7 linked regions of the Homo sapiens genome follow. The protein of the gene in region 7 purifies or fractionates together with the protein of the main gene of each other region. This does not show direct contact. Each region holds a gene or a part of one and is shown on either strand. Other genes may lie near its edges. The genes, in order: NAAA, PLTP, TGFBR3, CEMIP2, COL18A1, MYORG and SIAE.

Region 1 (3,500 bases), on a different chromosome or scaffold from region 7:
CTACTAAAACTACAAAAAAAAAAAAAAAAAATTAGCTGGGCGTGTGGGTGGGTGTCTGTAATCCCAGCTACTTGGGAGGCTGAGGCAGGGGAATCGCTTGAACCTGGGAGGCGGAGGTTGCAGTGAGCTGAGATCGCACCACTGCACTCTAGCCCAGTGACAGAGTGAGACTCCATCTCAACAACAACAACAAAAGTATTATCATACACAGGACCTCATTCGATCCCCCCAGCAGCCCTGTGAAGCAGGCATAAGTCAACATTTTAATCTTTACTTTCTAGATGAGGGGGCCCAGCTTCACAGAGACTGACTTGCCCCGAATCACAAGGCCTCTAGAGACATGGCAGAGGTAGGGCCAGAACCCAGGCGTTAGGCCTACTGATAGTTTTTGTTTACAGCCTTAATTAGGCTGTAAATTATTATTATTATTATTATTATTATTATTATTATTATTATTATTACTACTACTATTGTTTTTATTTTTGAGACAGAGTCTCGCTCTATCACCCAGGCTGGAGTGCAGTGGCGCGATCTCGGCTCACTGCAACCTCTGCCTCCCATGTTCAAGCAATTCTCCTGCCTCAGCCTCCCAAGTAGCTGGGACTATAGGAGGGTGCCACCACACCCGGCTAATTTTTGTATTTTTAGCAGAGATGGGGTTTCACTATGTTGGCTGGTCTTGAACTCCTGAGCTCAGATAATCCACCCGCCTCGGCCTCCCAAAGTGCTGGGATTACAGGTTTGAGCCACCGCACCAGGCACCAGGCTGTAACTTAAAATTCCCTGCTAAGGGTTTGTTTATGTTAACTGACTAGGCAGAAACAACTGGGAAGTACAAACAGAAGTAAAGACAGATTTTCAGAGCTGCAAGATAAAATATCTTACAAATTATATCTCAAAATTATTTATAATTATGTATCGTAATTGAAAACTACGATGTGACTTTTGATCTCATAACTTCAATTTTCTCAGCCCTCCAAGAGTGACCCTGACGATCACGGTGTCACGCAAATGAGGTGGCCATATAATTACTTTTTATTTTCCATATAATTACATTTGAGTAGTAAGGAAGACTTATTTCTGCTTTACCACCATGCGTGGAGATGAGACATTCATGGAGGTCCTCAGTAAGTCTGAGGGCTGAGGTCATTTATAAAGCTAAGGACACTGCATTCTCCCTTGTAATTCAGCCACCTTAAATTATTTTTACAAGCAGATAAGGTAAAAATAAATAATTAAATGAAAAACATTACTGACCTAATTTTTCTAAGGAAAATATCAATCTAGGACTATCTATTTCTTAAAACATAATGGTATTAGTTAACTTTTATTGAACAGTATGAGTCAGATACTGTTTTAAGTACTTTTTTTTTTTTTTTTTGAGACAGAGTCTTGTTCTGTCACAGGCTGGAGTGCAATGGTGCAATCTTGGCTCACGGCAACCTCTACCTCCTGGGTTCAAGCGATTCTCCTGCCTTAGCCTCCCGAGTAGCTGGGACCACAGGTGCGTGCCACCACACCCAGCTAATTTTTGTATTTTTGGTAGAGTTGGAGTTTCACCGTGTTGGCCAGGCTGGTCTTAAATTCCTGGCCTCAAGTGATCCGCCTACCTTGGCCTCCCAAAGTGCTGGGATTACAGGTGTGAGCCACCATGCCTTGCCAAAGTACTTCTTTGAAAAATAAAATTTGGTATCAGAAATAACTGATAAAGGCTAGCTGTGGTGGCTCACACCTGTAATCCCAGCACTTTGAGAAGCCAAGACAGAAGGATTGCTTGAGCCCAGGAGTTTGAGACGAGCCTGGGCCACATAGGGAGACCCTGTCTTTAGGAAAAGCAAAAAAAAATTTTGTATATATTTATATATCAGTCAGGTTTGGTGGCATGCACCTGTGGTCCCAGCTACTTGGAAAACTGAGGTGGGAGGATTGCTTGAGCCCAGGAGGTCGAGGCTGCAGTGAGTCGTGATTGCACCATTGCACTCCAGCCTCGGTGACATACAGAGTTTGATTTTTCTCCTGCAGGTTACATAGTGGTATCTTGCAATCACTGGAGCTTGTGACCTTAATTTAAAGTAGGAGTGATGCCTATAATTCATGGGATAGTTGTGAGGATTAAATGAAAGAGCTTTGTTAAAGGATTTTTAAATATTTAAAATTTAAATGTGATTATTATTGGTGAACAGTCCCACTTTGATATTCTAACTTCACAGAGCTTATAAAATATGTGATATTCATCTCTTATAATCAAATCAAAACAAGTTTTATTTTATTTTATTTTATTTTTGAGACAGAGTTTCACTCTTGTTGCCCAGGCTGGAGTGTGATGGCGCTATCTCGGTTCACCGCAACCTCCGCCTCCCGGGTTCAAGTGATTCTCCTGCCTCAGCCTCCCTAGTAGCTGGGATTACAGGCATGTGCCACCACGCCCGGCTAATTTTGTATTTTTAGTAGAATCCAGGTTTCTCCACGTTGGTCAGGCTGGTCTTGAACTCCCGACCTCAGGTGTTCTGCCCACCTTGGCCTCCCAAAGTGCTAGGATTACAGGCGTGAGCCACTGCTCCTGGCTTCAAAACAAGTTTTAAAGTAAGACTCCACTTGCTACTTCTAGGATGGGGCTTCTTAACCTGCTTTGTGCACCCCTTTGGTGAATACTGTTTTATAAATACATAAAATAAAATACGTAGGATTACAAAAAAAATCAGTTGTGTTGAAAACAGCCATTTCAATGTTATACTTTTTCTTAACACATTAAATAGTAAGGTTTAGCAGGGGGTCTAATAACTACCATGATTTCAAAGTAGTAAATTATGGATAGTGTTTCAAAATAACTGCAGCCAACATTGTGTATGTGAAAATATCTGTGATTTCTACTAGTGGCAAAATTATAGGCACCACTATGATTGTGTGATTTGTTGCATGCATTCATTATAGAAGGAGTTAAATTTCAGTTAGAGGTTAGTGAAAATAAAGATGCATCTTTTTTTTTCCCATCCAAGGTCACAAATCTACTAAAATCTATCTATGGACCACACCCCCACCCACCCCAGCTTAAGGTTAAGAACCTCTGTCTTAGAAGACTATTTCAGAGTTTTATTCTATTGTGTTGGAATTTATAAGAAAAAAAATCCAGAAAATTGTGGGGCAGAACAGGTGATTTCAGTGTATTTGATTGGAATGGTGAAATGATCCATGTTATCTCTTGATTTCAGATTGCATTCACAGGAACTACTTTTATTGGCTATGTAGGATTATGGACTGGCCAGAGCCCACACAAGTTTACAGTTTCTGGTGATGAACGAGGTAATCAAAACAAACCCCTGTGTAATTTTAGCTACATTATTGTTCAGTTCTATCCAAGCACTTCCTTCACTCACCCAACAGAATATACAGAACACCCACTATGTGGCAGGGACTTCCATCCTAGGGGGAGAAAGTGGACAGTATGCATGGAAGCAATGAAGATTTCAGGTAGCAATAAGTGCTGCAAAGAAAGCAAAATA
Region 2 (4,020 bases), on a different chromosome or scaffold from region 7:
TGGGGAAAGTCCTAGGCAAATCAGGATGAGTTAGTCATCCTTCCTAGATGAGTGTTTGGTGCTAAATACATGCTCAGCAGACATGATTATTGCTTCCCCTTTCTTTCGTCCATTTGGCAACAAAAAGGTGGCAAGCACCCACTCTGTGCCCTGTCCTAGGGTCCGGGAACCCTGTAAGCAGTAGATGGAGGTGGGGGTGGGGGTGGGGGCGGGGATGCTGTTCAGAGCACCTTGCTCCAAGGGTTCATTAAAAAATCCACCAGTGGACCGGGCGCGGTGGCTCATGCCTTTAATCCCAGCACTTTGGGAGGCCGAGGCGGGCGGATCACAAGGTCAGGAGATCGAGACCATCCTGGCTAACACGGTGAAACCCCGTCTCTACTAAAAATACAAAAAAAATTAGCCGGGCGTGGCAGCGTGCGCCTGTAGCCCCAGCTGCTGGGGAGGCTGAGGCAGGAGAATGGCGTGAACCCGGGAGGCGGGGCTTGCAGGGAGCCGAGATCGCGCCACTGCACTCCAGCCTGGGGGACAGAGCGAGACTCCGTCTCAAAAAATAAAAATAAAAAAAATAGAAAAAACAATCCACCAGCCACGATAAATGGCAGACCTCCTTCTGATTTCAGCCGGTGTGGTATGTTCCTGGGCTGACAGCACTTGTCTAGTCTTGCTTTCCCAAGTGGGAAAGGTCTCTGGGACCTTAAGGTCCCCAGGTGGTGACACAGAGACAGGTAGGGGGGCCCATAGCAAAGCCAGGCAAGGAGGTCCCGAGATGATTGTGGGTGGCAGGGAAAGAAAAAATATTCCTTGACTTTGTGCCTGGACCTGGTTGTAATAAAGGCCCAAGAGGTAGTTCCTATCATCGTGCACATTTCGCTGAAGGAAGAAACTGAGGGTCAGTGACCCAAGTGAAGTGACTTGCCCAAGATCATGCAGGAAGACATGGATAATTGTAATTTGAACCAAGGTCCCAGCAAAGTGGGATTGTTGGGGCTGAGTGGGCCGGCTCCTGCATTTCCTTCCCTCTCCCTGGGCTTGGGTCTCCCACTTGTCCAGACAGCGGCCGGGCTTGTCACGGGGCTCTGTGCAGCCTTTTCCACTCTCCCGGCTGCCAGCGTCCCGCCCCGTCCCCTCCCAGCCCCCAAGGGAGGAGGGGAGAGCTGCAGAGAGGAGGAGGGGTCGGGGAGGCCGGCTTTATAAAGGCGGCTGGAACAACCCTGCCCGCCAGACCCCGTCGCCCGGATCCCCTGAGCTGCCCGCCATCCCACGTGACCGCGCCGCCCCCCAGCTCCACCGCTGAGTGAGTTGGGGCGCGTCCCTATCCCGTTCCCAGTCCCTCGCCGAGCCGCGTGGTGCACTGAAGCCGGCGTGGGGAGGAGAGCCGATGAAGGAGAACGCTAACATGGGGGCTCCAGGCAGAATCTCTAATGGGAGAGATTTAGGACCTGAGGGAGCCGGGAGACCCGGGAGCCCACGGTCTGGTCGGCCACCTCCTCTCCTCCCCGGGCGCGAGGCCTAGGAGACCGCAAGCCACCCTCCAAGAATGCGCGTGCAGTCGTTGCCGTGGCAACGTGCAAGCCTGCATGGGCCCACCGCTAAAGGAAAGGGGAGGTTGTTGGGGGTGTGGGGGCTGGTCCCCTGGAGGTCCAAACTCATCACGCGGCGGTAGCACGAGGGAACTGGGAACGTCCCCTCCCCCGTGTCCCAAATCCTCTGGGAGCCAGAACGCAAGTCGCATCGCCTCTCTGAGCCTCAGTTTCCACATCTGCCATATGGAGGCAAGATTATTGGTTCCAAGTTCCCCGAAGAGTTATCTGGAGGGTAACGATCCAGGCTAGTTCCCACTTATGGTTGGACGTCCAAGGAATGGGTTTAAGCGGCTCAGATAACTCCTGCGACCCCACCCCACCCCCAGGCCCGCTCGCCATGGCCCTCTTCGGGGCCCTCTTCCTAGCGCTGCTGGCAGGCGCACATGCAGAGTTCCCAGGCTGCAAGATCCGCGTCACCTCCAAGGCGCTGGAGCTGGGTAAGGCGCAGGGGCAGACAGGGACGGACGGGAGCGGACGGGGTTGGGGTCGCCCCAACAGTGGGCACGGGAGCTAAGTAAGGGTTTCTCTGCTGCTTCAGTGAAGCAGGAGGGGCTGCGCTTTCTGGAGCAAGAGCTGGAGACTATCACCATTCCGGACCTGCGGGGCAAAGAAGGCCACTTCTACTACAACATCTCTGAGTAAGTGGGGGGCGGGGCCTCGCGATCCGGGGCGGGGCCTCGGCGGTGGAGGCGGGGCCCGAGAAATCTCAGGGTCTCGGGAGACTGGAGGCTGAGTGGGATGGGGCGTGGCCAAATCGATGAGGCAAGACTTAAGAAACCGGATGGGGCCGAAAAGATAAAGGCCAAGCCAGTCATCATAGGCGGGACCAGGCAGATGGGCGTGGCCTTGAAAATGTAGAGGGGGCCAAGAAGGAAGCAGGACCAGTGGATGTGAGGCGTGGTCGAAGAACAACAGAAAGGTGGAGTCAAGGAACTTCCCAATAGATGAGAGTGGAGTCTCGGGCACGGGGTGGAGTTAATCGGAGGGGTGGAGAAACTGAAGGCTCTAAGTATGGTTTAGGATGAGGGAGGGGGAATAAGGAATTGAGATGTGAGACGGAGCTTAGGTGATGGAGGCAAAGTGAACGGACTCTATTAAAAGACCGGGTGTAGCAACCCCAGGGTGTGGGAGGGGAGGGGGTGCAAGCAAACAAGACTTTTTTTTTTTTTTTTTCTGAGAGGGAGTCTTGTTCTGTTGCCCAGGCTAGAGTGCAGTGGCGCGATCTTGGCTCACTGCAACCTCCGCATCCCGAGTTCAAGCGATTTTCCTGCCTCAGCCTCCCGAGTAGCTAGGACTACAGGCGCGTGCCACCACGGTCTGCTAAGTTTTGTATTTTTGGTAGAGACGGGTTTCACTATGTTGGCCAGACTGGTCTCGAACTCCTGACCTCAAGTGATCCGCCCTCCTCGGCCTCCTAAAGTGCTGGGATTACAGGCATGAGCCACCACCGCACCTGGCAAACAAACAAACAAGACTTTTAAGCGATGGGGTGAAGCTCATTTTTAACACCTGGATCAGGAAGACCTCCTCTCTCAGCCACCCAAGTTCAACTTTGAGCCACCCAAGTCTAAGTTGGGCACTTGAGGGACAATGGAAGAATTCATTCCACCCACTCCCGCTTCCCCAGGCCTGGACTTGAAAGGGGAGCAGACAAATTTCCTGTCGTTGGGGGAAGTTCCCTCTTCTTGGCCCTGGATCTGACCCTGAGGCCTCCTGTAGGGTGAAGGTCACAGAGCTGCAACTGACATCTTCCGAGCTCGATTTCCAGCCACAGCAGGAGCTGATGCTTCAAATCACCAATGCCTCCTTGGGGCTGCGCTTCCGGAGACAGCTGCTCTACTGGTTCTTGTAAGGACCCAGCACCCTCAGGGGAGTGGAGAGTGGGTCAGGAGGGCTGGAGGTGCTGTGGGGCTGTGGGCAGCCCCCTTAGCCTTCCTGAGTTTCCGTTTCTTCATCTGTGTAACAGAAACAGGCATATGCATTTCATACGAGTTGATAGGAAGGTTTGGTAGGATGTGTGGAAAGAGGTGAAACCTTATTAAGAGGTATGGTGATGCATGGGGGCACTGAAGACTCAATTGAGCTCCTACCTGGAGTGAATATTAACCCCCCTGGCAGCTATGATGGGGGCTACATCAACGCCTCAGCTGAGGGTGTGTCCATCCGCACTGGTCTGGAGCTCTCCCGGGATCCCGCTGGACGGATGAAAGTGTCCAATGTCTCCTGCCAGGCCTCTGTCTCCAGAATGCACGCGGCCTTCGGGGGAACCTTCAAGTAAGCCCCAGCCCCAACCCCAGCTCACCCTTTTCGAGCCCCACAGCTCATCTGCCTAGCGCAATGCAAAGTGCATAGGCCTGGGAATCAGACCAACTGGGTCCAAAGCTCAGCTCTGTCACTTCCTGGCTGTGTGAACGTGGCCAAGTCACTGAAGCTT
Region 3 (3,500 bases), on a different chromosome or scaffold from region 7:
AAAGATTTTGACCAACTGAGAAGAAAGATTTCTGGAAAATGCAGCTTAGCTATTGCAACGGTTTATCATTGGGGGAAATCTGTGGAATCTTTCTCCAAGTAACTTCAAAAGTAGGAGAGTTTCTTCAATGTATGGTCTTTCTTAGAGGTGGAGAGAGACTTAATAATTCCTTAAAGGTCCTTTTTGAGTTTTAAATTCTCTTTTTGGATTTTTATTCATGAAGGAGGGAGAAGTTCTCCTACTTCTGGACGAGACTCAAATGAGGCCAGAGAGACCACACATCTGGTTAACCCGGCTGTGCAGAGGTGCTGCTCGTTCATATAGCCCAGGGCCTTAAAATTTTATCCTTATAAGGGCCAGTTGAGCTTGGGCACTGAGAGAAGTCATAATCACCTTGACAGTGCAGCCTTTGTCATCAGGAGACGGAAACGGGGGGTGAGAAAACAGGCCTTCCAATTCCCAAAGACTCACCAATAAAACAAATAAAACCAAAGAGCTCAGGGTCAAAGTACATCCATTTTGTTGAGAACTGACACTTGGCTTTCTTCAGGCCTGGGGTGAAAACCCTCTTCATCTTCAAAGAAATGTTAAGACTAACTTTAAGGGAGCACACAGCCAGGCTCTGGCAAAGGGCAAAGCTTTGTTCTGGAAAACACTCACGGAGTTATAGTAGACCACACCATCAAGGGCTGACCACCGGGGCCGAGTACCGCAGCCATTCAGAGGAGACTCCAAAACAAAGTGTGTGCCATTCATCTTGGCCTTGCAGGTAGGATCCAACAGGGTGACGTCCATCCCCGAGTAGCCACTGGCCTAAAACAACAACCACCAAAGACATGGTTGGAGGCCCACAGGCAGTTCTGTTGTATAATTGACACAATTGACAATTGCCTGGTCTTCCAAGGACAGGCGATGAGAGGCCTGCATCGTGCCCCTTCCCCAAGTATCTCTTCCCAGCTGCCCACCTCTCAACAGCTCAAGGGTAGTATCTGTTGGCCTTGGAAATTCAATAGCAAAATATTGACACACAAGGATCTGGAACCCCCACCCCCTGTCACTGAGAACAACAGGAACCAGGTGAGAATCACAGCCAAGGGGAAGTAGGCCCATCCAACTGAGAAAACAGTATCAAGCCTCCGGAGTTCAAAAATGAAAGAGATAGGGAGAAATTACAGATGCAGACTAGGGCCAGATGGGAAAGGAGGTAGCCTCTCTTCCCTCCTGTAATCAGCTGCACCGACCTGAAAAGAATCTTTTTCTACAGCCACGATCATCTTCTCATTGTCACATTTGACAGACAGGGCAATATCCACGCTCCCTTGCACCTCTTCTGGCTCTCTGAGACCAGGAAACAGTTGTATGCTGGGAATGACAGGGTCCTTTGGCCGAGGGAGCCCATCTTCTCCCTCTTCATTCCAGACTCTCCTGGAAATATCTGGGAAAGGAAACGGAAGGCCTCCATTTTGGCCTTCCCCTCCCCGGATGGGCGGGTTCTGCAGGGCAGGCAGGGCACCAGGGTCCAGCAGGATCCGTAGCTCAGGAGGAATAGTGTGGACTTCCTCATCTCCCATCTCCTCTGCTGGTGAAAGAAGAAGGCAAAACATCAGCAGTGTTTGATGCCAGGCCACAACCAACATCATTACAGGCAGAACAGGAGGAATTAGCATAGAATGGGCAGGTGTAAAATGACTTTTAATAAGCAGTGCATAAAGGTCATTAGAAGTCTAGAAGCCTGAATTCTAGTCCTGGTGTTCTCTCTAACTAGCTCAGTGGCTTTAGGCAAGCGGCTTGCTTCTCTGTGCCTCAAATTTGCTTTTCCAATTTTTTAAATTAAGTGGTTGGAAATGATCAGTGGTTCTTAACTTTGGCTACACATGAAAATCACTTGGGAGCTTTAAAAAATATTCCTACGCCCAGGTTGTACCCCAAACAATTTAAACTCAGACTCTCTGGGGTGGTACCCAATCATTAATATGTTTTAGTCTCTCCATGTGTAACTGCAATGTGCACCTAAGACTGAGAACCAATGGAACAGACAGTTTCTAAGGCTGTCCAAGCTAGAAAAATCTGTGATTTAAGTTACATGATGCAATATTATTCCATTGAAATGCCACTAAAATACTTTCCTTGAATCAAGAGAGTCTTTTGAATAATTTCTCTAATGATGTCTTGAAACAATATTGGTATGTTAAAATTACTTCACCACCTTCTTTTTGACAGCTAAATTTTAACAGGTATCTGGGCACCTTGGCCTTTTGGAACATATTCCCTTGAAAGATAAGAAATAGCTGCATAGATACATTTATTCCTTCAAAGGGAGAGACGTATTTCCATACAATCAATACTCAATATTTTGTCGTATTTCTAACAACTAAAAAAATAATAATTTCCCCAGTATTCTTTATATCTACTATCTAAGGCCAACTGATGTACACTTGAGGTCAAATCCATCTCAGTGGAAGCTGGAAGTGAAGATGATAGTTGGACATTATCTCTCCTTTAATAATATTCTTTGGAAAGGACGCTAGAGCTGTAAGGGTCCAAAATAAGTCATAGCTTTGTAGGGTTTTTAATTTGTACTTTCACGAAAACCTTCACAACAACCCTGTAAGGTCTGTCCTATTATTTTCCCCTTATTACTGAAGAAAAATCTGTGGCTCAGAGGTGAAGCAACTTCTCCCCAAACAGTGACTAAATGGTAGAGCTGGGGCTTGAACCTGTACTCCTAATCCTTATTCTATTGGCATTTCACTCAGTGGTGGTACCATGAGCTGAGGAACAGGTCTAGGGATCACAAAACTAGGGTTTCAAGTCATGCTAGCTAGAAGACTCCAGAAAACCTCAAGAATTTGTTGACCCTCTGCTTTCCACCCCATTCAGCTGGGGTAGTAACTCCTGCCATCCTCTGGGTATGAACACTCAAGTATGAGTCCTCGTGACTATTTTCCTAAAAGATACAGCCTTTTACCATGAACTTCTTTCCTGCAGTCTTAACTCTTCTGTATTCTCAGCCATAAGTGGTCATTAGGTGTCTCGGAGAGAAGAACCTAATGTAATCACACTAAAGATAACCTATAACAAAGTTCTCTGAATATGCATTCAACTCTATGTCACTGAAAATCTGTATTACAGTTTCCTCAAAATCTCTGTCTAGGTAATTTTAAGCCTTCTGATAAAAAGTAGTCAAATTATTAAAATGTACAAGAGAAAAACAGCAACATATAAGCTGAAATGACAGTTCCTCACTGGAAAAGCTTCATTTGGGGGGTATTTTTTACATAACTTAAAAAACTTCTAACTTACCATTATTTTCAAGCCGAAGATGAAATCTATTAGCCACAGGAGCCATTGTGTATGAAGTTATTGGACTATAGCCATTGTCCAAAGCCCACTTCACCAGATTCCCTTGGGTTGAAGGAATGTCATCTCTTATTGATTTGGTCATTGTCATAGATCTTTCACTCTCTTTTCCAAAGCCAATACTGTTAGGAGCCTGAAGA
Region 4 (2,824 bases), on a different chromosome or scaffold from region 7:
GGGAGGCTGAGGCAGGAGAACTGCTTGAACCTAGGAGGCAGTTTGCAGTGAGCCAAGATTGTACCACTGAACTCCAGCCTGAGCAACAGAGCGCGACTCTGTCTCTAAAAAAAAAAGAAAGAAAGAAAGACTACCATAAAGAACCCATACCAGCATGAAACTTAAGGTACTTAATCTTAAGAACCATCGAGACCCACATTAAGACATACCACACAAATTTCAACTTCCTGTAGGTATCCTTGATGACTCTGAAAATAAATCAATCTAATGTTACCTTTTAATTAATAAGAGCTACTCAGAGCCCCCTAAACACTGATTTGTTCTTGAAAATTTTTGTTTCAGTAATACCGGCCAAGAGTTCAGGCACAGTGGCTCATGCCTATAATCCCAGCACTTTGGGAGGCCATGGCGGGACGATTGCTTGAGGCCGGGAGTTCAAGACTAGCCTGGGCAATGTAATGAGACCCTGTCTCTATGAAAAATTTAAAAATTATCTGGGTATGTGGGCACATACCTGTAGTCTCACCTACTGAGGAGGCTAGGACAGGAAGATCCCTTGAGCCCAAGAGTTTGAGGCTGCAGTAAACTATACTTGCATCACTGCATTCCAGCTGGGGTGACAGAGCAAGGACCCTATCTCTAAAAAAACAAAAGAAAACAAAAATAGTTGCCCAGGCTGGAGTGCAGTGATGTGTCCACAGCTCAATGTAGTCTTGACCTCTCAGGCTCAAGTGACCCTCCTACTTCAGCCTTCCAAGTAGCTGGGACTACACGTGCACACCACCAGCCTGGCTGGTTATTTTTTGTTTTTGTTTTTGTTTTTAATTTTATTATTTTTCTAATTTTTTGTGGAGATGGAGTTTTGCTGTGTTTCCCAGGCTGGTCTTGAACTCCTGGGCTCAAATGATCCTCTCATCTCAGCCTTCCAAAGTGCTGAAATTAAAGGCATGAGCCACTGCACCCGGCTGGCCAAGAACATTTCTGATTAAAGTTTTTGAAAGAGTGAGTTTGTATGTGTACACACACACACACACACACACACACACACACAGAAAATAAATACATTATTAAATATATTGCTAAAGGATATGCAACAGAAGTTGAATAAAAGGAGAGACTCTGTTTCTGAATGGAAAATTAATAAATGTTAATTTCATGGACCAGTTTCATGGAAGATAATTTTTCCATGGACTGGAGGTGGAGGGGGATGGTTTCAGGATGATTCAAGTGCATTACATTTACTTAGTTAAAATATAAATTTGACACATTTCCATTAGTGTCCCAAAAGGTACTTTTCTACTGTACTTGACAGTTGATACTGTAGTTCATCTGGAAGAATAAATGAGAAAGTAGTAAAATATAAACAAATTACAGTAATACAAGGGCTTGTTTTTATCAAATATTAAAATGGACCGTGAAGCCATAGGCCAGCATAGTTTTGGCAGAGAAGAGCAAGATCAGAGAAGAACGGAGAATCCACAGATAGGTCCAAGTATGTATGTTGGCTTACTATGTGACAAAAATGGTAATTCAAACCATGGAAAACACATTTAGTCGTTTATTTATTTTTAGAATTGTGTTTATCCATTTATTTAATAAATAGATAATAGAACTTAAATAAATAGAGTATTTGAAACAAAACAAAACCATTCTCCCATGTTACAGTAGACTTACTCCCTGATAGACAATGGAGAAGGAAGGGTGAGGGGTGGATGACAGGAAATTACTGAATAGGCACAGTGTACATTATTTGGGTGATGGATACCCTAAGTGCCCTGACTTCACCACTATGCAATCCTATGTATGTAATGAAATTGCACTTGTGCCTCACAAATTTATACAAATTATAAACAACAACAACAACAATAGACTATTCCCTAAAAGAGCTGTGCCCCAGACCATCCACTAGGTCAGCAGTCCCCAGCCTTTTTGACATCAGGGACTGGTTTCATGGAAGATAATTTTTCCATGGACTGGAGGTGAAGGGGGATGGTTTCAGGATGATTGAAGCACATTACATTTACTGTGCACTTTTTTTCTATTATTATTACATTGCAATATATAATGAAATAATTACACAGCTCACCATAATGTAAAGTCAGTGGGAGCCCTGAGCTTGTTTTCCTGCAACTAGATGGTCCCATCTGGGGGTGATGATCAACAGATCATTGGGCATTAGATTCTCAGGAGCACACAACCTAGATCCCTCACATGTGCAGTTCCCAATAGGGTTCTGCTCCTATGAGAGTTGAATGCCACAGCTGACCTGACAGGAGGCGGAGCTCAGGCTGTAATGCAAGTGTTGTGGGGTGGCTGTAAATACAGATGAAGCTTCGCTCGCCTGCTCACCTCCTGCTGTGCAACTTGGTTCCTAATCTACTGGTACCCATCCATGGCCCAGGGGTTGGGAAGCCCTGCACTAGGTGAACGTACGTAAATGATTTGGTTTATGTATGCGTTACCCCTTGTAAGAGCAACGTGTGAAGCCCATGGTGGTGGGGTGGAAGAGTGGGAATTGGATGGAAAATCATCTAGACTTTTTTCTTTTTGGAGTTCTGCTTTTATCTAATATTTCTATTCAGCAGTCAGTTCAGAAAGATACTCAGTAGAAAGATACTCATGCTGAAGGATTGAAATTGGCTCTGACTTTCTAAATTTCACATACAGGTCCATTGTTCTGTTGAGCACAAGAGGAGAAATAAAGCAGTTAAACATTTCACACTTACTAGTACCTCTGGGATTAGCCAAACCAGCTCATCTTTATGACAAAGGTTTGTATTTGTATTATTTCATGAAGTTCTTACAGGGCCAGCAACATAGGTAA
Region 5 (3,500 bases), on a different chromosome or scaffold from region 7:
GTAGCACAGTGCCCAGGCACTGGGGCAGAGGTGGATCCCGTAGTCCCTCGGTGGGAGCTCCAAAGCCTCCCGTTTTCATCTCTTCCTCTTCCCAGGATGGGATTTTGGGGATGAGATCTTCCTGGTGGGCTGGAGTCTGTCCCAGAAGTCAACAGCCCAACCTGGGGCCAAAAAAGACCCTCTTAGATAAGGCAGGCCCTCGGCAAGACTCCAGCCACACATGAGAGGGTGGAACAGAGCTCCTGAGTCCCACTAACCACGGCCACCTGCAGTGGTCAGGTGGGGGCACCGTGTCCATCCCCCCATGGGTTTGTGCCAATTTGCATATAGGTATGTAGCTTCCTATTGGCGACTGTAAGAAATTGCCACAAATTCAGTGGCTTAAACCAACACAGCTGTCTTACCTTTCAGTTTTGGAGGTCAGAGTCTGAAACCAGTTCACTGGGCTGAAACCAAGGTGTTGTCAGGGCTGGGTCCCTCTGGGACTCTGGAGGAGAATCTGTTTTCTTGACTTTTCCAGCCTCTAGAGGCTGCCGCTTCCCTTCGCTCAAAGCCCCTTCTTCCCCCTTCAAAGCCAACGGTGTTGGACAAGTCCTCATGGTGCCATCTTTTGTCCTTCGATTTTAAGGCTTTGTGTGGTTAGAAGTGGATCATCTCCCATCTCCAGGTCCACAGCCTGAGTCCCAGCTGCAGCATCCCCTTGCCACGTAAAATTACGCTTGTGGGTTCCAGCTGTTGTGCCGTGGACATCCTTGGGGCCATGGCTCTGCCCACCACAGTTTGTCCATGTGCACGGCTGCACATGTGTACATATGCATGGGAGTCTTACTTTGCATTAATGGGATTGCCCTGTGTCTGAAAGTTCCTCTTTCCTTTATCCTGCATCTCAGGAGTCTCCATAACTCCAGGGAGATGCTCTGCTCTTCGTGTTGTTCTGGTCTTTTCCTCAGCCCTTCCTGACTGAAGCACTCGCAGGTATTTCTGCTTCTCTGTATAACAGATGACCCTGCAGACACCTGCTCAGCCCCGACTGGCGGGTTCATCGCACAGCCTCGCCTTTGTTTATCAGACACCAGCTGAGCCACCCCACCTGTGCCTGGCGTGGGTTTTGGGTCAGCGCTGACGGTGGAGAGATTGAATGTTGTAAACGTGTCCGAGTGTCAACAGGAAGTCTCCACCCGGGGACAGGGGCCCGTTTCTTAGGTTGTTTTTAGCCTTCCGTGGGGGCTCTGCAGCCTTGGGATTTGGTGGAGGTGTTTGTTCTGAGGCCGTTTTTCTTTGATGCCAAGATGTCCCCCCGGGCACTTCACTGCGTAAGTGCTATGGTGTGATGGAGTGATGATGGTGGCGCACTCTTCAAGCTCTGGATCAGGTTCCGGAAGCTCTGTGTGAGTCTTACTGAGGTGGTTATTTTCTCTTTTCCCTGGAAAGTGGGCTGAGAGCACTCCATGTGGGCACGAGCGGCCCTGGCTCTGCAGGACTGGAGGGGGCTGTGCTGGAGGGCGGGGGGCTGGCCAGGCAGCCTTGGATCTTGTCCTCAGGAGCCCTTCAAAGGGGCAGCAGAGACTCCAGGCCCTGTGCCCCGAGGAGTCAGGCTGGGCTGGTTCTGGGGAGTGTCTGGAGCACCTGATGCTGAGCACAGGCGGGCGTCCGTGGAGTGCACGTGTCTGAGGGTCTCTGAGGGGTTTGCCCTTTTCTTCGGAGCCACGGTGGCCGTGAGGGATGCAGGACATTGGGTGTGGCCCTCGAGGACTGGCCTGTCTGGAGCCCACTCCCCCGTGGGTGAACGCGGCTCTTGGTGGAGAGCCCAGTTTGGGGAGAAGGGACGGTCTTGTCCTGGGAGGTGTCAGACAAAGCCGAGCATGGGACTCACAGGAGACCCCCAGTCAGGCCGTGTCAGGGTGAGGCTGGGAGTGAGGGTCCTGGAAAGTCCGGCTTCTGGGAGAGGGCGCTTTGGCTCAGAGGCTGCCACTGCAGAAGGGATGGACGTCCCCGGTCCCCTAAGATAAGGGACCCAAGGGGAGGGGCGGGGACGTTCCACACTGGTGTGAGAACAGCGGAGAGTCCCAGCCAGAGGTACCCGCTGCTCTCCTGCGGGGAGGATGCTGGCTGCACTGTCTGTCCTGGGCATATTTAAAGGGGCCTCTGTTAACACACACAGGCCTCCAGAACCATCCACACTTCTGGCTGGCCTGATTCCTGAGGGGGAAATGGTCTTTAAAGAAGCAAGCACCTTGATCCAAAGGGAGGTGGTCCAGCAGGAGGGGCCGCCCCACCATACCCAGGAAGGTTGAGCTCTCGCACCCGGGAAGGCTGAGCTCTCGCACCCGGGAAGGCTGAGCTCTCGAAATGGGGTTCAGGCATTTGCTGTTTGATTCCAGGACATCTGAGACAGCTGGGCCTGTACCTCGGGGAGTGGAGGCTGCGCCATTCTCTGCCCATCCAGCATCTTAGGGCCGGGCATTTGGAAGCTGGCTTCTGAAGGGAGCCCCCAGGAGCTTCGTGGAGAGGAGACGGGACAGCTTTGGAAAGGGCGTTGCTGTCACTGGGGTCCCTGGGGCCGCCGGTGTAGCGTGCTGGTACCCTCCAGCCCAGGAAGGTGGCAGCTGCCGCATCTTGCTTTCCCAATGACGGAATGTTCTAGGAAGGGTGGTGGGAGGTTTCTCCAAGGTGAACGCGGGGGCAGCTGGGTGGCTGGCACGGCCTCTGGCCCCCAGGCCGAGTCCTGTTTCCTGATCTTATCACAGCCCCAGCTTGGACATGTGGGACCAGGCACTTCTTATGAGAAAAAGGATCATTGTAACAGCTGCCATCTGGATGGACGATCATTGTAACAGCTGCCATCTGGGTGGACGGCGGCCTCTGTCTGAGGGGGATGTGACCGCTGGCCCCCAGAGCCCAGGCTCAGCCCGTTGGGACCCCTCTGCCCCTGGCCCAGACTGTGGCTGCAAAGCCCGGGCTCTGCCTGGCACGGCAGGTGTGCTGGGAAGTCACTCTGAGCAGGGTCTGCCCTTGAGTGGGTGCTGCCCCCCTCCCGTGGGCAGGAAACGAGGTGTGAGAACTCTGGGCACCGGGGCTGCGTCCTGGCTTGGGCTCCCTGGGCGAGGGATGGACAGGGCTCCTTCTGACCCTGGGCTACTGAGTCGAAGTGAAGTCAAGCTCCGCCTGGGCAGGAATGAGTGGAGTGAGTCACCCGGCGCTGTGGGGCATTTGCACGGAGCAGCGGGGCTGGTGGGGAGACTGTGGCACGTTGGCAGGTACGTCAGGCATGCAGCCCCTCCAAGGGGTGATTGTGGCCCCGAGGGGAATCAGCATGGGGGGGATGGGGAGATACAGCTTGTCCTTGCCACATGAAGCACCTGGCCCAGCAGGTGAGCCGGTGACCGACAGCGCTGGGTGAAATCCCGCACCGTGTCCTCAGATGCCACGTGGAACCCCAGCTGAGGCAGCCACTCTGGGCGACGCCCCGTAGCCGAGGCTTCGAAGAACACTGGGGTGTG
Region 6 (3,500 bases), on a different chromosome or scaffold from region 7:
TTTGGGTGTCTTCTTCAATCTCCAGACTTCATCAGGCTTTTGACTCAGGATAAAAACACATCCCTGAGCTGTTCTCCCTTCCTCCCTCCTCTCCCCCTCTGGGGACAGGGAAGCTAGCCTACCGCCCTGTTAAAAGTCTCAAGGGGGACTGGGCGAGGTGGCTCACGCCTGTAATGCCAGCACTTCTGGAGGCTGAGGCAGGTGGATCACTTGAGGTCATGAGTTCGAAGCCAGCCTGACCAACATGGTGAAACCCTGTCTCTACCAAAAATACAAAAATTAGCTAGGTGTGGTGGTGTGCGCCTTTAATCCCAGCTACTCGGGAGGTTGAGGCAGGAGACCCGCTTGAACCCAAGAGGCAGAGATTGCAGTGAGCTGAGATCATGCCACTGCACTCCAGTCTGGGTGACAGAGAGAGACTCCATTTCAAAAAAAAAAGTCTCAAGGAGCTGGCTGGACAATACCCCCTCTCCCACCCTGACCATCCACACCTCTAGGAGAGCAGGACTTTTCTAGTTCCTTTCCCGTCTCTTCAGCCCGAACGGCCCCATGTGTGATCTGGGGAGGCCTGGCTTATCCTGTGATCCTGGAAAGCTTCCTGACCCTCTCAGGGTTTGTTTCTCCACTAGGAAAATGAGGATGGGTGCCATCTCCCAGTCACATGGGCCGCTCCCCAGTCACAGAGTCCTAATTTGGGCAAGCATTAGGTCCCATGAGAAAGGGTGGGTTAGGCACAGATTGTCCTGGTAAGGGTCTCACCTTTGCCACTCTTCAAGCCCTCAGGTTCCAGTATTCATCTTCCCAAAGTATACACCTCCTCTTAGCTTGCGGCAGCAAATGGAAATATCATGGGATGAGATAGCTCAGTTCCATCTCTGTCTCCTCCTTTCAGAGCAGGTTGAGATGAACTCAGTCAGATGGCCCCACGGCCCGCTCCTTTCTTAGCAGCCCACTAATGCTCCAGAACCCTCAGGAGAAGAGCCAGGCCTACCCCCGCCGCCGCCGGCCTGGCTGCTACGCATACCGTCAGAACCCCGAGGCCATCGCAGCCGCAGCTATGTACACCTTCCTGCCCGACAACTTCTCACCTGCCAAGCCCAAGCCTTCCAAAGACCTGAAGCCGCTGCTGGGCTCCGCGGTTCTGGGGCTGCTGCTTGTGCTGGCCGCGGTGGTGGCCTGGTGCTACTACAGCGTCTCCCTACGCAAGGCGGAGCGACTTCGCGCGGAGCTGCTGGACCTGAAAGCTGGCGGCTTCTCCATCCGCAATCAGAAGGGAGAGCAGGTCTTCCGCCTGGCCTTCCGCTCCGGCGCGCTGGACCTTGACTCCTGCAGCCGCGATGGCGCCCTGCTGGGCTGCTCGCTCACGGCCGACGGGCTGCCGCTGCACTTCTTCATCCAGACTGTGCGGCCCAAGGACACGGTCATGTGCTACCGCGTGCGCTGGGAGGAGGCAGCGCCGGGCCGGGCCGTGGAGCACGCCATGTTCTTGGGCGACGCGGCGGCCCACTGGTATGGTGGCGCCGAGATGAGGACGCAACACTGGCCCATCCGCCTGGATGGCCAGCAGGAGCCCCAGCCGTTCGTCACCAGCGATGTCTACTCCTCCGACGCCGCGTTTGGGGGCATCCTCGAGCGCTACTGGCTATCTTCGCGCGCGGCCGCCATCAAAGTCAATGACTCAGTGCCCTTCCACCTGGGCTGGAACAGCACGGAGCGCTCGCTGCGGCTTCAGGCGCGCTACCACGACACGCCCTACAAGCCACCCGCCGGCCGCGCCGCAGCGCCAGAGCTGAGCTACCGAGTGTGCGTGGGCTCAGACGTCACCTCCATCCACAAGTACATGGTGCGTCGCTACTTCAACAAGCCGTCAAGGGTGCCAGCACCCGAGGCCTTCCGAGACCCCATTTGGTCCACATGGGCGCTGTACGGGCGCGCCGTGGACCAGGACAAGGTGCTGCGTTTTGCCCAACAGATCCGCCTGCACCACTTCAACAGCAGCCACCTGGAAATCGACGACATGTACACACCTGCTTATGGCGACTTCGACTTCGATGAGGTCAAATTCCCCAACGCCAGCGACATGTTCCGCCGCCTGCGCGACGCCGGCTTCCGCGTCACGCTCTGGGTGCACCCTTTTGTCAACTACAACTCGTCGCGCTTCGGCGAGGGCGTGGAGCGCGAGCTGTTCGTGCGCGAACCCACGGGCCGGTTACCTGCGCTGGTGCGCTGGTGGAACGGCATCGGCGCGGTGCTAGACTTCACGCACCCAAAGGCCCGCGACTGGTTCCAGGGACACCTGCGGCGGCTGCGCTCTCGCTACTCCGTGGCTTCCTTCAAGTTCGACGCGGGCGAGGTCAGCTACCTGCCGCGGGACTTCAGCACCTACCGGCCGCTGCCGGACCCCAGCGTCTGGAGCCGGCGCTACACTGAGATGGCGCTGCCCTTCTTCTCGCTGGCGGAGGTGCGCGTAGGCTACCAGTCACAGAACATCTCCTGCTTCTTCCGCCTGGTGGATCGCGACTCTGTGTGGGGCTACGACCTGGGGTTGCGCTCACTCATCCCCGCGGTGCTCACCGTCAGCATGCTGGGCTACCCATTCATCCTACCCGATATGGTGGGCGGCAACGCCGTGCCCCAGCGGACAGCCGGCGGCGATGTGCCCGAGCGCGAGCTCTACATTCGCTGGCTGGAAGTGGCCGCCTTTATGCCGGCCATGCAGTTCTCTATCCCGCCCTGGCGCTACGACGCGGAAGTGGTGGCCATCGCGCAGAAGTTCGCCGCCCTGCGGGCCTCGCTTGTGGCACCGCTGTTGCTTGAGCTGGCGGGCGAGGTCACCGACACGGGTGACCCTATCGTGCGCCCCCTTTGGTGGATTGCGCCCGGCGACGAGACAGCTCACCGTATCGACTCGCAGTTCCTTATTGGGGACACGCTGCTTGTGGCCCCGGTGCTGGAGCCAGGCAAGCAGGAGCGCGACGTCTATTTGCCCGCCGGCAAGTGGCGCAGCTACAAGGGTGAGCTTTTCGACAAGACGCCGGTGCTGCTCACCGATTACCCGGTCGACCTGGATGAGATCGCCTACTTTACCTGGGCGTCCTGACCCAGCCCAGGGCCCGGTAACCGCAAAGCCCCCAGTCTTCATGCAGACCTTGAACCCTCCGTCACACCCGCACCATGTACTCCCAGGAACCTCCCACCTCTATACCACCCATTAAGTGGCTGCTGACTTAAATGTGCTGGAACCAGCTGCTGAAGGTGGGGCCTAGGGAGGGGGCACTGAAGCAATCTCCTGCTCCAACGCACAATCCTTACTGTGCCCTTTCCACCCCCACACTCACACCAATCTGCAGAAACCTCTTCCCTGGGGTGGAAGCCAGAGAGCTTAGAGGAAAAAGGTCAGCTCTCTTCCTGTTATACATGGTTATACATGGTTGGGGTTTAAAAGCACAAAGAGAAACCTCCCCCTCCTGGCTTTCGTGGCCATCTTTGTCCATCTTAGG
Region 7 (3,127 bases):
GTAAGAATACTATCTATGGGTAGCTTTCCTCCCCTTAATGTGAAAAATGAGAACTAAAGCAAAAAGCATCACTCACTGTACATATACAATGTATTTTACGTAGTGTAAAAAATATGGTTTAGATAGTGAATATATTAATGAAATCATATGTAAATTTATTTTTAGTGGCTGAATAATTTAAAACATTATGTGGAATTCACTATGTTTCCCCCAATTTAGGAACTTTTTACTGTGTGAAAATGAAATTTATAATACTCTGTAGGGTGAATGATGGTTTTTGCTTTAGTTCTACCCCTCTGTAGAGTTCCAAGGGGTTCTGGTGTAGCTCCAAACAGCAGGAATAACTTTGTCAGTGCCAAGATTTTATTTAGTTAAAAAACAAAAAATCTACACACTTTACAAGGAACGTTGGCTCCCCTGAGGACTTCCTAGCATTCAACTCGTTCAGTTAACCCCTATTGCCCATGCTTTGACCTCTCATGCATCTGGCCCCATAGAAACCATGAACCTTGTAACAGATTGATGCCTGAGAAAAAGTCAATCTACCCGTCCACTCCTCCACTCCCAATACACATACCCCCATGGGCTGTTCTAATTCGGGGGCAGCCAGAGGTAGCCAAGAACTCTAAGTCCAGATTCCTTTCACCTCCAGGAACCTAGAGTACATAGTGTGAAAAATACGGTTCAGGCAATGATTATGTTAATGACGCCATGCACATTCATTTTTAGTGGCTGAGTAATTTAAAACATGATGTGGGAATTCACTGCATTTCCCCAAATGTAAGAACTTTTTAGTTTTAAAATGAAATTTATAGTCACTGTAGAAAATTTGGACACTAAAGTATAAGCAAGTAAAAATCACCCCCAAATTCATCATTCAGAGAAACACTATTTTGCTGAACCATTCACTTGACTTGAGTTATATAATTTTATACAGTACATATTATTTTGTAATCTGTGTTTTTGACTTACTTACTTTACCAAAATAATTTTCTTATGTAAATAATAGAATATAGATTTAGAGTGTTTCAGTTTGTGGAAGCCTCATTTTATTTAACCAATTTCCTATTAATGGACATATAGATTTTTAACAATTTTCTACTATTAAAATAATACTGTAATGAATATCACATGCAAACATCATACCACACTCGTCCAGTTATTTCTTAGGGTTCTTAACATGGAAGAGGATAAATATATATTTAAAATTTAGATATCTACAGCTTAACCCTCCCAAAGGATTAAACAACTTACATTCTCACCAAGGTAGTCCTTTTTTTGCCCTCACCCTCATTGACACTGGATGTTGTCAAATTTAAAAAAAATCCTTAACAATCTGATAGATGAAAAGATAGTTTAAGTATACTAAGGCAGTGTTTTTCAAGGTGTTTTTGTTTTTGTTTTTGAGTTGGAGTTTTGCTCTGTTGCCCAGGCTGGAGTGCAGTGGCGCGGTCTCGGCTCACTGCAACCTCTGCCTCCCGGGTTCAAGCGATTCTTCCTGCCTCAGCCTCCCGAGTAGCTGGGACTACAGGCGCGTGCCACCACGCCTGGCTAATTTTTTGTATTTTTATTAGAGACCGACTTAGCCAGGATGGTCTCGATCTCCTGACCTCTTGATCCACCCGCCTCAGCCTCCCAAAGTGCTGGGATTACAGGCGTGAGCCACCGTGCCCAGCTTTTCAAGTTTCTTAAATCCATGATCCATAGTAAAAACATTTTACACATATCTTCATACAAGTATATGTATATGTGGTATACGTACACACTATAGTTGTATATGCATTATAGCTGAAAAACCAGTTCAACCTTTCTACATGTGGTATGTTCCAAAAATTTTAAATGTCTTTCTAAAATGAGGCTCTTTTAATACGGGTATTACTCAGGCTGTAATAGTGGGAAAATATTTGTTATATGATAAAAGCAGCATATATCATTTCTGTGTAAATGCCAGTATGCTCAAGCCATTTATGCAGAGAAAAAAAGAAAAACACTGCATTAACATTTTAAGCAGTCCCCTTCCCGATTTGCTATTATACAAAGTTTGTTTCTTTTACATTGTAAAGTGTATACAACTTATAAAAAGACTATACTCAAAATCATAAAATACCAGTTAACTTAGCTTCTCAGTTTACAGTGGCCAGTGTGGTGTGCTCTAAACACTGCTGCCTGATCCCTCCCTCTGCTGGTCAGATTTATTACTATAAAGTACCAATCCCATTTGTGTTGTCCTCAATTGGCAATTATGAATGGCAGTGCATTAACCATTCAATTCTCACCACTCCATCCCCATTCTTCTACTTCTGGGTCCTTTTGTCCCTCCCTTTCCAGACAGCCCTTGGTAACCTGCTGCTGGGTAACTAAGGCATCCCACAGGTAGTGTTGAGGTGTTAGGTGATAGAGTAAACCTCTACCTTAATGCTATTAACAGGGTCCAAAAATCCAGTTGCATGGAACATGGAGTTATATTATTACATGGCTAATGAAAAGACAGGACTAAGTCTGTTATAGAGTATGGGACTAACCCCCAATTATATGTGAATTTGTGTTATCATATGGTTTCAGTGTACTGAGCTAAAAAGCACATTATCTGAGGTGCAATACAAAGGTTAAAGAGGTTAAAGATCCCCTTGAAGGATGTGCAAAATGTGAAGAAAAAGATGAACAGTGTACCTTGGACTGGACTTTCCATCTTGAGTTTAAGCAGAACATTGGATTTTGATGATACTGACATGAAAATTAAGCAGCAGCCTGGGTTGCAGGGGCTGGGACTTGATATTCCTTGAATTAGGATCACAATCAAGAGTAGAAGTTTGTCAGAATCTCCCTATCTCCCTCGTTAGTCAGCTGCTGCTACTACAGACTTAATGTTTATATGTCCCCAAAATTCATGTTAAATCCTAACCCCTAATGTGATGGTATTGGGAGGTGGGGCCTTTGGGAGGTGATTAGGTCATGAGAGCAGACCTCTCATGAACCGGCTTAGTGATCTTATAAAAGGGACCCCGGAGAGCTGCCTTCCTCTTCTACCACGTGAGGACACTGCAGGAAGACAGCTGTCTAAGAACTAGGAAGTGGGCCCTCACCAGACATTGAATCTGCGCTCCTTGAACTTGGACTTCCCAGCATC

The links.
Region 1: the proteins of SIAE (region 7) and NAAA purify together in Homo sapiens (affinity purification with mass spectrometry; 2 studies listed by BioGRID and IntAct, with this or other methods). This does not show direct contact.
Region 2: the proteins of SIAE (region 7) and PLTP purify together in Homo sapiens (affinity purification with mass spectrometry; 2 studies listed by BioGRID and IntAct, with this or other methods). This does not show direct contact.
Region 3: the proteins of SIAE (region 7) and TGFBR3 purify together in Homo sapiens (affinity purification with mass spectrometry; 2 studies listed by BioGRID and IntAct, with this or other methods). This does not show direct contact.
Region 4: the proteins of SIAE (region 7) and CEMIP2 purify together in Homo sapiens (affinity purification with mass spectrometry; 2 studies listed by BioGRID and IntAct, with this or other methods). This does not show direct contact.
Region 5: the proteins of SIAE (region 7) and COL18A1 purify together in Homo sapiens (affinity purification with mass spectrometry; 2 studies listed by BioGRID and IntAct, with this or other methods). This does not show direct contact.
Region 6: the proteins of SIAE (region 7) and MYORG purify together in Homo sapiens (affinity purification with mass spectrometry; 2 studies listed by BioGRID and IntAct, with this or other methods). This does not show direct contact.

What each region holds. Positions count from the first base shown.
Region 1 is NC_000004.12:75,931,014-75,934,513, reverse strand, and holds part of NAAA (N-acylethanolamine-hydrolyzing acid amidase isoform 1 precursor), read left to right. Parts: intron 1-3,209; coding exon 3,210-3,300; intron 3,301-3,500.
Region 2 is NC_000020.11:45,909,356-45,913,375, reverse strand, and holds the start of PLTP (phospholipid transfer protein isoform a precursor), read left to right. Parts: upstream 1-1,220; 5' UTR 1,221-1,297; intron 1,298-1,912; 5' UTR 1,913-1,923; coding exon 1,924-2,023; intron 2,024-2,124; coding exon 2,125-2,224; intron 2,225-2,381; exon of another isoform or gene 2,382-2,505; intron 2,506-3,305; coding exon 3,306-3,434; intron 3,435-3,704; coding exon 3,705-3,860; intron 3,861-4,020. UniProt on the Homo sapiens protein: Mediates the transfer of phospholipids and free cholesterol from triglyceride-rich lipoproteins (low density lipoproteins or LDL and very low density lipoproteins or VLDL) into high-density lipoproteins (HDL) as well as the exchange of phospholipids between triglyceride-rich lipoproteins themselves.
Region 3 is NC_000001.11:91,718,652-91,722,151, forward strand, and holds part of TGFBR3 (transforming growth factor beta receptor type 3 isoform a precursor), read right to left. Parts: intron 3,494-3,500; coding exon 3,304-3,493; intron 1,580-3,303; coding exon 1,242-1,579; intron 814-1,241; coding exon 661-813; intron 1-660. UniProt on the Homo sapiens protein: Cell surface receptor that regulates diverse cellular processes including cell proliferation, differentiation, migration, and apoptosis.
Region 4 is NC_000009.12:71,685,690-71,688,513, reverse strand, and holds part of CEMIP2 (cell surface hyaluronidase CEMIP2), read left to right. Parts: intron 1-2,667; coding exon 2,668-2,771; intron 2,772-2,824. UniProt on the Homo sapiens protein: Cell surface hyaluronidase that mediates the initial cleavage of extracellular high-molecular-weight hyaluronan into intermediate-size hyaluronan of approximately 10-5 kDa fragments.
Region 5 is NC_000021.9:45,464,165-45,467,664, forward strand, and holds part of COL18A1 (collagen alpha-1(XVIII) chain isoform 4 preproprotein), read left to right. Parts: intron 1-3,500. UniProt on the Homo sapiens protein: Probably plays a major role in determining the retinal structure as well as in the closure of the neural tube.
Region 6 is NC_000009.12:34,370,399-34,373,898, reverse strand, and holds part of MYORG (myogenesis-regulating glycosidase), read left to right. Parts: intron 1-892; 5' UTR 893-955; coding exon 956-3,100; 3' UTR 3,101-3,500.
Region 7 is NC_000011.10:124,632,613-124,635,739, reverse strand, and holds the end of SIAE (sialate O-acetylesterase isoform 1 precursor), read left to right. Parts: 3' UTR 1-2,627; downstream 2,628-3,127. UniProt on the Homo sapiens protein: Catalyzes the removal of O-acetyl ester groups from position 9 of the free diacetylated sialate N-acetyl-9-O-acetylneuraminate (Neu5,9Ac2) in the cytosol and of the diacetylated sialate residues of sialylglycoconjugates in the lysosomes.